2 linked regions of the Homo sapiens genome follow. The protein of the gene in region 2 interacts with the protein of the main gene of each other region in a biochemical or structural test. Each region holds a gene or a part of one and is shown on either strand. Other genes may lie near its edges.

The links.
Region 1: the proteins of NOX4 (region 2) and SIRPA form a complex in vitro, tested with the Homo sapiens proteins (one study listed by BioGRID).

What each region holds. Positions count from the first base shown.
Region 1 is NC_000020.11:1,919,250-1,927,033, reverse strand, and holds part of SIRPA (tyrosine-protein phosphatase non-receptor type substrate 1 isoform 1 precursor), read right to left. Parts: intron 5,640-7,784; coding exon 5,322-5,639; intron 4,722-5,321; coding exon 4,389-4,721; intron 2,271-4,388; coding exon 2,157-2,270; intron 1-2,156. UniProt on the Homo sapiens protein: Immunoglobulin-like cell surface receptor for CD47. Acts as docking protein and induces translocation of PTPN6, PTPN11 and other binding partners from the cytosol to the plasma membrane.
Region 2 is NC_000011.10:89,487,923-89,495,835, forward strand, and holds the start of NOX4 (NADPH oxidase 4), read right to left. Parts: upstream 3,454-7,913; 5' UTR 3,325-3,453; coding exon 3,268-3,324; intron 3,057-3,267; exon of another isoform or gene 3,051-3,056; coding exon of another isoform or gene 2,931-3,050; intron 2,839-2,930; exon of another isoform or gene 2,763-2,838; coding exon of another isoform or gene 2,685-2,762; intron 2,632-2,684; coding exon 2,536-2,631; intron 1,072-2,535; exon of another isoform or gene 927-1,071; intron 1-926. UniProt on the Homo sapiens protein: NADPH oxidase that catalyzes predominantly the reduction of oxygen to H2O2. Can also catalyze to a smaller extent, the reduction of oxygen to superoxide. May function as an oxygen sensor regulating the KCNK3/TASK-1 potassium channel and HIF1A activity.

The DNA.
Region 1 (7,784 bases), on a different chromosome or scaffold from region 2:
AGGCTGACAGGTTGCAAAGTGCTGGACACAAGTCATCTCTGGGAATCCAGTGATAGGACACCAGTCACCCCCTTTTACACCAGAGAGACTAGGTGACTCCTCAGGGTCACACAGCTGGGTAGTGGTTGAGTTGAAATCAGGACATTTCACTGTGAGCATTGAGAGGCTGGGCAGACCCCTCCAGGGCCTAATGAGGGAGAAGGGGGGTCTAGTTATGGCGGAGGGAGGTAGTGTGCAAGGTGGTCCTAGACATGGTCCTTGGGTTTAAATTCTGGCCCCACCACCTCCTGGCTGTGAGGCCCTGAACAAGTTTTATAACTTTCCCATGCCTCAGTTTCCTCATCTGTAAAGTGGGGTTAGTAATGTCACCCATGAGGTCTGTGGTGAGCACTGACTGTTACTACAGGGAAAGCACAGTGAGCAGTGCCTGGCACATTGGAACTGCTGGGGGATACTAGCCGTCCCTGTCACTGGAGCCTGTGTTTGAGAGCTAGGCTCTGCACACAGACCTGCCACTCGGGCTGGGTGGCCTTTACCAGAGCTGCAGCCCTGCAAACTCCATTCCTCTGCAACACCTAAGCCCACAGTAATGAGCTCACGTGTGCCAGGAGCTGGCGTGCTGCCTGGGCCTGAGACTCAGAAAGGATGGCCAGGATTTCACTATCGGCTGCTATGAATGCTTCATCCCATGGGATGGGCTGTCACCCTTGGTGGGGAAGGGACCTGCTTCCCCATCCAAGGAGGAGTCCTCCCTGTGTGGGGCTCTCCAGGAACTTTAGGGAACCCATTGGGTAGACGTCTTGGTGGGACGTCTTGCAGATTCTGGAGAAGCAGGGCCTGACTCCAACCCTCCCAGACAGAAGCATCAGGCTTGGCCAGTATCTCAGAGCCAGCCCAGGAGGGAGGGAAACTTGGGAGGCAGAGGTGAAGGAGCTACTGAAGGGATGCGTGATTAGTGTACAATGTGCCCAACCAAGCTCAGCTGTGCCAGGCCACAGAAAGGCAGCTCGGGACAGCACTTGTCCCTTTGGAGGCGGTGGGTCACAACCAGCATTTTAAACAGAAAAAAGAATATGACAAAAAAGAAAATATCAGTTTTAATTTTATATACAAAGGGTGTGTGTATGTGTTGGGTTGAGATGTGAAATGTATTTCTATCTCTTGTAATAAAAAAAGGTTGCAGAAATACCAGCTTAAAATTGTCTTCTCCAAGAGTGGGAAAGAGAACATGTATTTATGGCGATCCTAGAATGTGTCAGACCCGTTATTTCACATGGGCTTATTTGGATCTTGTAACTTCTCCAAGACAGGCGTTGCTAAACCCATTTTACAGATGGGGAAACTGAGGCTTGTAGAGGCCAAATTGATTGTTTACAGTATATAACCAGGGTCTGGAACCCTGGTTTGTCTGACTTCAAAGTCAGAGGCCCTGCCACAGCAACAACCAACCCTCCCAACAACCAGCACACACACACAGACACACACGTAACACGTGCACACAAACAAGGGGAAGCGGTGTCCTGGGTTTGACCCTGTGCCCTCCTGCTGTGCAGTCAAAGGCTATGCACCTTGCCCTGTGAGGGGGCTTTCTAGGGAGGTGGCTCATATTTCTGGGCTCACATACAATACGGGTAATAATCAGGGCTGACATACATTGAGCACTTGTGTGCCAGGTTACTTCCCTAACATTTCCCATGCAATCACTTGTTAAGTCCTCCCAATCAAATGGTGGCGCTATTATCTCCATTCCCTCTGGCCTCCTGTCCAGGGACTGGTCATGTAACCTAGACTTGTACCAGGAAAGCAGAAGTCTGCCGGGAGGCTCCTGGGAAAGACGATGTCCTCCCTGAGACAGGTAAGAAGAGTCCCTGCCTCCTCTCTTCCCAGGCTGGCAGCTCCCTTGCTCAGTAGTGGCCCCTTGAGGACACGGGGCCTGGGGCAGTGATGAACATCTTGTAACCATGAGGGGGAAGCCACAGAGTGACCCACCCAGACTCTAACATGGTGAGGCCACTGCCCCAGCCCTAGCACCACTACCTCTGGACTTCTTGCTACTGGCAGAAGCTGATGTCCTTAACCCAAAGCACCTAATGGCGTCTCCCTCCGAGGACAGTCCAGGGACAAACCCTTAGGGAGGAAGAGGGGAATGCACCCACCTTTCTTCTGTCTGATTCGGACGAGGTAGAGGGCCGCCATCAGTAGGGCCACCAGCAAGGTGCACACCACACCCACCACAATATAGATGTTCCGTTCATTAGATCCAGTGTTCTCTAGGGACCACATGGAATAGAGGCTTCACGTATGCAGATTAAAAACAGAAAACCAAACCCACCACTGCTTTTCACCACTAAGCAGGCATCATTAACTGAGAACATCTGGCTGGACCTTCTTAGATGTCTCGAGCCACATGGGCACACTCATGGGTCTGTACACACTTGCCCACGAGACTCATCCATGAACAGCACAAAAACCATGCTGAGGTGCCAGGGGGGAATATATTTGTAGCTGACAGCTACGGAGGAACCCCTGCTGCAGGATACAGGCAGAAATCTCACTCCTGAGGAACAGAAACGTTCCTTCTCATCTGGAGTGAACCACAGAGCGGTCATGAGGGCACCCCAGATCCACTGGAAACTGAATCAGCAGCTGGAAGAAGGGCAGTGCGGCCAGCAGGCTCTGCACAGCTCAGGGGCTGACGACCGGTCTGTGCCCAGCACCTGGGCCATGCACACTGGGCTCAGGAGTTAGCATAGGGGCTCTGAACCAGGACTCTTGAAAATACAATGGAGGCTTGACTGCCCACAGCACAGGTAAGGGGGTCATAGACTAGAACACAGTGGTTCATCAGAAGCAGGGCTCTAAGCCACAGAAAAGTGCTTTCAAATCTATGCTACTAAGTAGCTGTGTGACCCTGGACAAGTCAGTTAAGCCTCCCTCCAAACCCTGGCTGCTTCTTCTGTTACTGGGGCCAACAGTCATCTCTACCTCATTGGCTAACTAAGGATTATGTAACCAACCAACCAACCAACCAACCAACCAACCAACCAACCAACCAGCCAACCAACTGACTCTTTTATCCTCTTTCACTCAAAAAGCATTTACTGAGTGCTTACTGTGGTCAGGCCCTGAAGCTACAATGCTGAGCAAGATAATCATGGCCCCTACCAGCTGAGACTCAGAGCTGAGGGGTCATGAAGCTCATCCCCTTCAACACAGCCAGAAGCAAGTGGAGGCCCAGAGAGAGGCACTGACTTGTCCAAGGTCACACAGCCAAGTATGCAACATAGCTGGCGTGGAAAGCCACACATCCTGTCTCCCAATGCCCTACACATCCCATGAAAACCTGGCATTGCCCAATGCCCTACACATCCCATGAAAACCTAGCATTGCCCAATGCCCTACACATCCCATGAAAACCTGGCATTGGCCGATGCCCTACACGTCCTAGGAAAACCCGGCATTGGCCAATGCTCCACACGTACTATGAAAACCCAGCATTGGCCGATGCCCTACACATCCTAAGAAAACCTGGCATTGGTGAAACCAAAGGGCCACTTTGACACAGCCCCAAGGCTGTCTTTGAGAGCTTCCCTGAAGGGTGCATGAAGGACAGAAATGGCTTCCATTCTAATCCATTCAAGGGTTCTACTATGTACAGGGCATCAGCCACATTGATAACAGGTGATGAAATATTCCATGGCTGCACTGAAATGCCAATCAGGTGCCACCATTTGAAAACAAAAGAGATGTACACCAACACCACGTTGCAAGGGCTGAGAAAATGATACCTTGACACCCTCACACTCTCTCAGGGGAGCGACAGCATTATCTCCTCCTTACATGAGTATGCATTTTGGCCTAAAGTGTTCCTTGGGCAATCACACAGAAATAGTCACATGTGGGATGGAACATGCACAAGGATGTTCACTGAAGCACTGACTGTATGTGAGACAAGCTGCAAACACCCTGAATGACTCCACCCTGGCTTCCAGTGGGGCAGGCTCCCAATGGCAGCCAGGGAGATGAGGCAGGGGCTAGAAAGAGTAGGGAAGAGGGGCTGGGCCAGTGAGGAATGGGGAGCATGACAACTGTCAGGTGAAGAAGGCAAGAGGCAGGACACCATGAACAGATGGGCCCCCTCTCTCCCTCTTTCCTCCTGTGATATAAATCTATGTCAAAAGATCTATCAAGATGTGCATCAAACTCTTACCAGTGGTGACTCTTGGAGTGTGGGATTTGGGGAAATGGAGCTGACATTAAAATTCTACTTTATATTTATAGACTTCTAGATTGTTCTATAATAAGCATGAATTACTACTTTTAACATTTAAAAAACCCACAAAACTAAAAGTTTAAAAAAGCTGGGTCAGCTGAAATAGAGGCCTCACCAGCGGCGGTATTTGAGCCCTGCTCCTTCGGGTGGGCTGAGACCTTCAGGTCATGGCTTTTGCTGACCGCTGGCTGCCCGTCATGCTCCACCTGGCAGGTGAGCTTCACATCATCCCTGTGGGCAGATACATTCACCAGGAGCCAGCTCATCCAGTTGTAGGTACCATCCTTGTTCTCTGTAACGGTTGAGGCCGTTTCTGTCCGGGACACGTTTCCATTCTCCAACCAGGTCAGCTGTAGTCTCTGGGGGTAGAACTTCCTCACCTGGCAGGTGACATTCACCTGGTTCTCTGCCCTCACGGGCTGTTGAGTAACCTCCAAGGTGGGTGGAACTGAAACAGCACAGGGCAGAAGCTCTGACCTTGTGGCACAGACAGATCACAGGGAGGGCTCCATAACGTAGCTCCCCCACCACGGTGAGGTCATCACCAGGACAGAGCTAGGCAGGCATCAGGTGCTCAGACATTGAGGGTGCTCTTTGCATATGAATGAAATTACTAAGCACAACGCCCAGCACACAGTAGGTGCTCAAGGACTGGTAGCTCCTACTAGGCTAAGAATGAGGGAAATCTATAAGCACCACCCCTGGCATGCAGTTGGAATGTTGTAACTGTAGCAAAATAAAGAAAATCACCAAGCACATAGAGGCTTAGTTCATAGTAGGTACTCATTAACTGTGTTTGCTATCAGTGAAATAAATGAAACGGCTAGCACAGTCCTTGGCACCTGGTGGGTGGTGTGGTCACCCAGCCACTGCCATTAAAATGTTAGTAAGTGGCTGGCACATCTAGGGGCATGGGAGGTGGGCAGTTAGGAATTTAGGTTCCAGGCATTTCAAGCCCTGGAGCAAGAGTAGAGCTGGATGAGTGGAGGGTGGTGGGGGGTGGGCTTGGCGGTCAGGTGTGGGCTTGGGCTGGGTGAGGGTCTTCTACCTCGGATGGTCTCAGACAAGTTGGCAGTCCCACGAAGAGGGTCCCCCTGCAAGGTGACGTGGGCCACCTCGCAGATGACTTGAGAGTGAACGTCCTCGCGGGTCAGCACCACCTTGGCTGTGCTGTGGATGCTGTAGGACACGCTCTCTCCTACGGGGTCCACGTTGGTCTGGAAGTCTGAGAGCTCATTCCCATTTTTGAACCATTTCAGGGTGATGTCTCTGGGTGAGAAGCCGTGGGACTCGCAGGTGAAGCTCACTGTGTGCTGAGGTGTGGCCCTCGCCGCAGGGCCCGATACCACGGGGGCAGAGGGTTTGGCTACAAAAGGACCATCGATAATCAGGAGACATGACTCAGATGACAATCACTAACGATAAGTGTGTGACACGTTAAGAACCTTCTGAGACATTATTTTTTATCCTTCCAATAATGTGGAAGGATTAATGAGGGCGGTGTCCTTATTGTCATTTTACAGAGCAGGATGCAAAGGTTGGGAGAGGTGAGGACCCATGTGAGGTCAGACAGTGTAGGGGCAGGGCCCAGAGGGAAGTCCAGGCCTGAGTTCAAACTTCTCCACTCCACACAGGGTGACTTCCAGCAATTTGGGCACAGGATCAAAATTAACGATCCATCTCATCCTTGGTATTAACTGTTTCTACCCTGCCTCCCCTGGCAACAGTGCCAACCTCAGAGAGAGCGTTTATAGAGGTCAGTGCAGGGAGTAAGCAGCAACGTGGCATCACCATGAGAGCTGGAACCAGGCCGCTCAGCCCATGAGAGGGGCGGCCTGGCACACCCAGCTCCTTGTCTGTAAAATGGAACAGCAGCATTTCTCCTTTCTGGGATGCAGCGAGGATTAAATGAGGCAACAGAAGCAGTTTTGCTTTGGATAAACACAGAAGATGCTTCACAAAAATAAGCAAAAACAGATCTAACTTTAACCCAGACTTTATTCATATCCAAAGCTCTCTCTTCAGGTATTTATGAATTTACTTCATATTTTTCATTTTCTCCACAAATATTCCAGCAGGGTCTAATCTGTGCCAAGTGCTAAATTTGAAAGGAAGGGATACTTTTCTGAATCTGCGGTCTTCTTTGGTGTCAGTTTTAGATAGACACTAAAGATCACCAAGTGTGGAGAAAGCCAAAGTGGTTAATTATCAATTAATTACACAGACACAGGGCGCCCAAGCAGGCAGAAGCACTTCCTGGGTCCTGAAAGCACACACATGGCTGAATCAGAACGCGGGCTGTTTCTCCCTGCAGATGGGTCGTAAACGTGTCTCCAAATTGCTAATCATTACCCCATACCTCCTATCGCAGTCACCAGGAAGCACATATCACACATACTTGCATTTGTAAATATTAACTTCTCCCTCACACCCATCAAACATTTTGAGGGCACAGTAAGGAGGGTGTCACTTGAAGAAGTCAAGTCATTGAGGCCAGCGGCCTGGATGTCCCCACAGGGCTGAGGGGCTGCAATCAGTTCCCATTTATCCAGGGCTTCTCTGGAGCTGGACACTGGCTGCTCCCTCCATGCCCGTCAGCTCTTTAATCCTCACTCCATCTCTGTGAGGGGATCCTCGTGTGAGCCCCTTTTAGGACAAAGCTCAGAGAGGCCCAGGGCCAAAAGTGGATACAAACCCCACCCTGTTAAGAAGAGGGAGGATGAATGCAAGCACAGAGCCTGGTATGCAGCAGGTGCTTAATAAATGACCCCTGTGACTGTTATCAGGAGGTCTGGTCATTACTGCTTCCGAATCTACACATTTATCCTTCAGGCAGCAGAACAAAGCAGAGCAGAAACACCAAGAAAAGGCTCAAACCCTGCTCCCTGTGGCTCATGACAAACCCAAATGATACAAGGAGCAGAAACCACCAAGTGAGGATTCTCTCCCCTTTTCTAAACAATCCCCTCAGGAAACAAGTTTGGCGAATTGGCTTTCAAAACACAAGATCACAGGCGCCTCCCTCCAGAAGAGCCATTTACAGAAGCTGGAAGCATTTTAAAGGAGGAGGGAACAGACTCCTCCGTGACATCTTGGTGTGTCGAGGCAGGGAGGGTTCTGGGGCCGAATTGGAAGGATTTGCTGGGATTCCGGCGGTCATTTAGACAAAAACATTTTCAGGATGGAAGGTTTCCCCACACTGAGGCTGGATCTGAGCAGGGCTTTGTCTGGGGCCCCTACCTTGGCCCCCGAGGCCTGTATCATAAGAGGGGGTCTGGCCAGGCCACTGGGGCCTCCAAAGAGCTGTCCCGGGTGCACGTTGTTCAGAAGCATCCACACCCTGAAAAGCTGTTCTCCCATCTGGCACCCCAAGAGGACCATCTTTTCCAACTTGTCCTCCGTGACCTCTGGGTGTCTATCCCAGGGGTTTTCAGTCCTGACTCTGTATTAGAATCTTCTGGATTAATTAAAAACTTTAGATGCCTAGGCCCATGCCAGGCCAATTGAAGAG
Region 2 (7,913 bases):
TCATAGATAGTAAAACTGTAGAAGGAGTTTCTTTTCCAATAAAAGGTAATATACAGACTGAAAATACCTATTCCAAAATAGCTTAGATAAATTAATGACTGGAAAATTCATAACAGATAATTACTGAGAAGTTTATAAGTCATATTTTATCTCTCAGCATGTAGAAAGACCATTCCTGTCCACAGTGACTCTTGGTAAAATGGAGAATACTTACCAGATAGCTCAAATATCAACTCACTATAATTATACTTGTGTGTTCTTAAAAACTAATTTATAACAACCTCTCCTTTCTTGAATCTGTTTCTTATCCTTTATGCTCCTAGTCTTCCATTTGGTCCTTTTATCATTTTTTTTCTTCATTCCCTTGATCAATATTTATTGAGCCCTATGTGTCAGCAGTCCTTGAAGCTCATTACCCTGTCTGTTATTCAAGCAGAAGCAGTGAAGTGGGATGGAAGTAGAGAGGTGAAACATAGTTTAAATGTTTTCCAAATTTGTTGGTTTATGTTTCTGTGCATATGTGATCTTAATCATATCTGACTTACCACCAAATTAAATTTGAAATTCAGTTATACAGTATCCAAGTTCATGAAAATTAATGAGTTGGTTTCCAAATAATTATTTTTTTAAGAAATAAGATGTTATTTTAGCTTATACTATCTCACAAAGCTAAAATCCAAAGTTCAGTTATGGCTTTCTAGGTTATTGCAATAAATTTCCAGTTCTTAGATTTTTATATTAATACAAATACCTCGTGATCCAGAGCAAATTTTACCATTCTATATCTAAAGAGTTTTCTCCAAGTTGTTCATCAAGTTATGTAATAGATGAGATAAAGCTTCCACTGAAAAACGTCCTATTCATTAAGTTACACCTAATGGGGAAATACTAGAAAACAAAACCAAAAAGTTATCAGACCTCATGTGTTTATTAGAAGAAACCTTTTCTTGTTTATTGAATTATAATTATTTATTTGTTGGTTTTTCCATTATATTGTAAGCAACTTGAGGGGCGAGGTGAGGTCTTACTCTCTGGGTGCCCATCTGAAATGTATAGGTTTCAAGACAGTTCCTGGATTGGATGGATGAAAGAAATAAATGAAATGGGTTTAGCTTTACAGACTATTTTTTTCAACCCATTGGCTTAAAACCTAGAAGTTAAACTTTATAAAGTGTGTGATCAACAGATTATGATATTACTTTGTTGTATAAAAAATTAATTAATTAATTCAACTGCAACTTGTTGCAGGCTTAATATGTGCCAATCACTAGTCTGGGTACTGAGAATTACAGATAAATAAGATCTCTCCATGTAAAACATAGAAGGGAGAGCTGGTTCCACTGAATTTGTCTGAGCTCGTCTTAATTTTAAGTAGTCATTAAACCATGAAAAAAAATAAAAAAGCAAAATGTGTTTTTTTCTGCACCCCCCCACTCACCAAAATGCAAAATCTATTTTTTCAGGTTCCCTAAGTTTTTGCAGGGTTTTACACTTTTTGCTTGTTGCTTAGAAAATGCAATCTCAGCCGGGCATGGTGGCTCACGCCTGTAATTTCAGCACTGTGGGAGGCTGAGGCAGGCGGATCACTTGAGGTCAGGAGTTCTAGACCAGCCTGACCAACATGGTGAAACCTTGTGTCTACTAAAAATACAAAAATTAGCCAGGTGTGCTGGTGCGTGCCTGTAGTCCCAGCTACTCAGAAGGCTGAGGCAGGAGAATTGCTTGAACCAGGCAATCAGAGGTTGCAGTGAGCTGAGATCACTCCACTGCACTCCAGCCTGGGCATCGCAGCAAGACTCTGTCTCAAAAAAAAAAAAAGAAAGAAAGAAAGAAAGAAAAAGAAAACGCAATCTCCTTGTGCAAAGTAATATGCCTTCAGTGACACTATCTTCTGTTAAGCAGTCAAATAAGAAGGAGATGGAACAGAAGAATGAAATCAGAAACATCATAGAAAAGAAAGAAAAATATTAACATAAAATAAATCAGAAAAAAGTTTTGCCCAGTATCTTTCTCATATTATAGTAGAATACTGGAATATCATCAGCCACTAACCCAAAGCAAGCACTGAGAACTGCCCAGAAATGAATAACCCCATTAGACCCATATTTTGTGAGAGTTGTCAGTAAAAACAAACAGTGCAGAAATCCTCTGGATAAGCTCATGAGCAGGCTAAAAGCACTGATAAGTATATACTAAAAGCTTGTTATTGGTTGATCCTCCTAGTGAATCAGATCCTTCAGGGTACTTAGCAGCTGGCAATAAGTAGCAATTTTTTTAAGGCACCAATAACCTGGTCTGGCAGGTTCATTCGTTTCACTTCAGCAGATATTACCTTTGGTTCTTGAGAGAGTCAATCTTTTTAACTTGTACAAGTGTAAATGATAAATCAGGAAAATGTGACCACTTTAGAGAACAACAAAGGTTTTCAAAGTGAAGAGTGCACATTTCTTTAATGAATGGAACTGACCAAACCTGTAGCAATGTCTGCCAGTGTTAAACCCATTCCACCAGATTATCCAAGTTCACCTTACTTACCCCCAACATCTGGTGGAGGTAGTGATACTCTGGCCCTTGGTTATACAGCAAGAAGGTTTTCCAGAAAAGCAGGACATTCATGGAGAGCCAGATGAACTAAACCAATCAGACATGAGAGACAGAAAACAAAAATTGAAAATAATTATTACCTGATGAATAGAAACCACAGGTAAATTCTTCGACACAGTGCTTTCAATGGAACCTAAATCAGTAACTGCAGAAAGCATTTTCAATTAACCAGCAAGCTGAAAACCACTCAGAGGAAAACAAATCTGACTTTACCCAGCCCTTTCACCTGAGACTAAGCATTTGGGTTGCAAATAGGTTTCCTAAATGATTTACAGCTATCCCCTGCCGTACAAAATGAGATTAAGAAATTAATGACATCACCATACCCCAAGCAAACAGAAGTAATCTGGGAAAAGAACAAAGGGAGCAAAAATGTTTAAAGGGTAAAAAGAAAAGCTGTATTCACGGAAAATGACCTCTTCCCTCTTCCTCCACATCTCTCCCATCAATGTGCAGAAAAATTCTCATGCATTTGGGGGACAGGCGAGGGGGTGGGAGGGGGAGTGTTCATTGTTATCTCCAGCATAAAGTTTTGTAAGTTGAGAATGTTCGAATTAAGACAAAACTTCCACTTCCAGCTTCCCACCCGTGCACGCTCAGAGAATGAATCAAAATCACTGCAGGACAGAGAGAACGCAAGGAGAGCCTAGCCCGCCATCCTACCAGGCAGAGGTGTTTAACCCCTTCGTTGGCGAGCCAGCTCCTCCAGGACACAGCCATGCCGCCGGCCCCGCCGCGCTGCGCTCTGTGCCCGCCGGACCGAGAAGGAGCGGGCGGCGGCCGGGGCAGCGGTTACAGTTGTGCGGCCTGCCGGGCCGCTGAGCGAGGACCGAGGGTCAAAGACTGAGTGGAAGCCCGAAGGCCCGGCGCCGAGCCAGCCCGGGCGGGGTCTGCTACCCAGAGCCGGGTTTTCCGGGCGCCCTGACTCCCACCCGCACCGGGTCAGCTCTGCCCACTCAGCTGCCCAGACGCCCAGCGCTCTGAGCGCGCGGCCCAGGCTGCACCAGTCTGCTCCGCCGCGCCGGCCCCTTTGTCTAGGGGCGAGCCTGTTGTTGTGGCTGCTGCTGTTCAGGATGTCCCGGGTGGGAACTTGGAGGCGTCCCCCGCAGCCTCTACCCAGGCCTGCCAGGCTCCAAAATACTGGCAAACATGTGAACAATGCTACTCATACTAAAAGTGGGGACCCTCGCCGCCCCCTTGTACACACACACACACACACACACACACACACACACACACAAGAAGACACAGCTCTTTTAGACTGATTGTTTTCCCCCAAAAAAGTTCATCTCAAAGAGCCTTGGTAACGAAATTTGAGCCGGAAACAGCCTTTTGTGTGCTAGTTCACGTTTCTCCCACCCTTCCTCAGCAAATTATCCCACTCCCAAACTAAAGCCCCCCTGACAGCCTTACCTAAGGCTTCCCACCAGCCGCCAGTTTCTTTATCCCCTTGCCCGCCCATCCCATACTGATAAAAAGGTTTTAAGACATTACTGAATAAGAAGAACCCAGGGAATTAATGGTTAAAGCTGATGTAATTCTTAGGGGCTCTAGGTTAGGTTCACTCTATTCGGGAATCTTTTTGTTTTAATACCTAGTCTGTTTGTAAGTAATAGGAATCCTCTCAATCTTGTACCAGAGGTCCAGTGAAGAGTGAGAAGTGTGTGGAGTTGACCCAGGTACCTATTCGACACTGCAACAAATCAGTATTAGAAAAGAGAGAGAAAAAAATGTCATTCATGTAGAAAAAAATCTGATGCAAAATAGATATCCAATAAAGGTTTGTTAAACCAATAACTTTTCTAGATTTAACAACTAATGAGAGACAGAAAAGTTTACTACTAGTTGCTTAATCGAATGGCTTTTAAACTCTTAAAATAAAAAATCTTACAACACAGGCCATAGGATATAATTAAAACTAAAATTTCAAAAAATACTACTACTCTCACTACATGCAATATACTTATTCCAATTAATTTAATGAACTGATTAATGATTGCAGTCCTCAGTTTTAAAAATCAAAATGAATTCATATCAAGTCCCTGTTAGACTTCACACAATTTTCTAATAGCCTGTTTTTCCTGTTTCATGCATGACCAAATCCAGAAAGCTGTCCTAAATCTTTCTGAAGTTAGAGAGCATATTGTTTATAAATAATACTATGTTCTTTCTGACCATGTGACACCTAAAGGATCAGGGAAAGAGCACACGAAAAACCCAAGGGGTCTCTCCACTGGAAGGAAGTCAAATTCTGGGATGCACTGGTGCTCCTAAGCTTTAATTTCAATAGATGGGGGCAGGAGGTTCATTGGCAGAATAGGTTCTTGTCATGAGTTGAGAAGCGTGAAACAATTCAAGAATAGTAAAATAAGAGACCATTTTTAAAAGCTTAGAGACTTTCAGAACAGCAAAAATAACAAAAAGACAAAAGGTTTAAAAAATGGCTCCAACTCTTAATAATGTACCTACTAAGTCCCAGGCTCTGTCTTTGCTACTTCATATACAAAATCTCACTCCATTCTCATAGTAGCCCTCCATGTGCGTGTTAGCACTCTCACTTTAAAGATGAGAAACGGACTGCCGGGCGCGGTGGCTCACGCCTGTAATCCCAACACTTTGGGAGGCCGAGGCGGGTGGATCACGGAGTCAGGAGATGGAGGCCATCCTGGCCAACATGGTGAAACCCCGTCTCTACTAAAAATACAAAAATTAGCCGGGCGTGGTGGCAGGCGCCTGTAGTCCCAGCTATTCAGGAGGCTGAGGCAGAAGAATTGCTTGAACCTGGGAGGCAGAGGTTGCGGTGAGCCAAGATCGCACCACTGCACCCAACCCAGCCTGTGCGACAGAGCAAGACTCTATCTCAAAAAAAAAAAAGAGATGAGAAACGGAAGCTAAAAGAGATGAAGAAATTTGCTTGAGGTAATGAAACTGGGTTTGCTTCCAATTAAAACAACCTATAATCAGTTACTTTTGTAAAATTATTTTGTAAAATGATGGAATGCTTATATAAATGTTGGTTATTACTTATGGCTATTATTTCATAACTCTGTAAGAGGGGACTGAGATCTGTTTATGTTGCTTTACCAGGAAACAGTACTCCAAGCCATCCCCAAGGGACAGAGCTAGTGTCCTGTTACGCAGGAACTCTCATTAATGAGATTGTTTGCAATACAATTTTCTCTAAGCCAGATTGTTTTATTATTATTATTATTATTATTATTATTATTATTATTATTATTTTAGATGGAGTTTTGCTCTTGTTGCCCAGGCTGGAGTGCAATGTCGTAATCTCGGCTGACTGTAACCTCCACCTCCTGGGTTCAAGCAATTCTCTCACCTCAGCCTCCCAAGTAGAGTAGCTGGGATCACAGGCATGTGCCAACCCGCCCAGCTAATTTGTGTATTTTTAGTAGAGACGGGGTTTCACCACATTGGCCAGGCTGCTTTTGAACTCCTGACCTCAGGTGATCCACCAGCCTCGGCCTCCCTAACTGCTGGGATTACAGGCGTGAGCCACCGTGCCTGGCCAACCAGATTGTTTAATGACATAGTTGCTGTATTTCCCAAACTAGGAAAGGCCATTCTTGAAAGTAATGGGGAGAGAGTTCTGTAGCTACATCAGTATTTTAAATATTATAAGAAAATTCACACTTTCTCCAGGAACAGACTTTACAATAAAAACTCAAATGACAGATACCTTTGATTTTTGGCTGAAATAATGGTAAGCTAGTAGTATAACACTGATCTTCCTATGTTAATTATAAAACCTATTGGCAGTTAGAACTGTTCTTAACCTATTATATATTACTTAAACACAGAAACTTTTTTGTAGACAGTGTTTTTCAAAATATGAAATGCACTGGGGAAATACAATACTCTTTCTACATAATCATTACTGCATTTTCCACAAATTAATTTAATTATACGTATGTGTGTGTCTAATTCTCCTACTCAACTGAACTTCTTAAGGACAAAAATCCTGTCTTACTCCATTTTTATTCTAGGACTTAGCACATAGCTTGACACATAGTAGGAATTTACACAACGTTTATTAGATGAAGGAATAGTGGTTAAGTATATCATCTTTCTTTCCGTGCCTTTCTCAAATCCCAATTTCTCAAGCATAACTCTCCAGTAATATAAAAATAGTTTCTGCTCAGCTTGACAATTAATGACCAGAAAAGGTAAAGAAACGGGGCAAGAACCCCTTAAAATGGATGTTACCAACCCCACAGGTTAAACGATAGGAATTTAAGACAAGTGGGCCCTTCTGTTAGTTTCCTATGGCTGTGCTAACAAATCACTACAGATGTCATGGGCTAAAACAACAGAAATTTATCGTCTCACAGTTCTGAATGTCAGAAGTCTGAAATCAGTATTATTGGTTCAAAATCAAGGTGTTCACCAGATCACAATATTTTCTTTTCTTCTTTTGAGACAGGATCTCGCTGTGTCACCCAAGCTGGAGTGGAGTGGTGCAATCATGGCTCACTGCAGCCTTGACCACCCAAGCTCAGGTGATCTTCTCTCCTTAGCCTCCAGTGTAGCTGGGACTACAGGTGCACACCACCACGCCTGGTTCATTTTTAGTTAGTTTGCTTTTTGTTTGTTTGGTTTTGTTTTTTGTTTTTGTAGAGACGAGATTTTGCCATTTTGCCCAGGCTGGTATCAAACTCCTGGGTTCAAGTGATCCACCAGACTCAGCCTCCCAAAGTCCTGGGATTACATGCATGAGCCACTGCAACTAATGCACCATCTTTTCTGATGTGCTAAAGAGAATCTGTTCCTTGTCTCTTCCAGATTCCAGTGGCTGCTGACATTCTTTGATTTGTGGCTGTATCACTCTAATCTCTGCCTCGGTGGTCACATTGCCTCCTCCTCTTCAATCTGTGTGTGTGTCAAATCACCCTCTGCCTCTCTCTTACCAGGACACTTTTGATTGTATTCAGGGCTCACCCAGATAATCCAGGATAATATCCCTATGCAGGATACTTAAATTTAATCACTTCTGCAAAGTCCCTTTTTCCTTATAAAGTAACTTTACAAGTTCCTGAGATTAGGATATGTTATCTTTAGGTGGCTATTATTTAGCCTAGGATAGCACCTAATTAACCTAGATCATATTAATTTTCTTTCTCTGATTGGATATGCTAGCCTTAGAATAAGACTTCTGGAGAAATTTACCTTAAAGAATAAATGTTTGGGACTCCTAGTTAGCATTTCCCTCAAGAAGTCAAAAATTATAGACCAGGAAACATGCCTGATAGAATTCAGTAAGATTTCTTAACCATTGTAATTTGATATAGTTT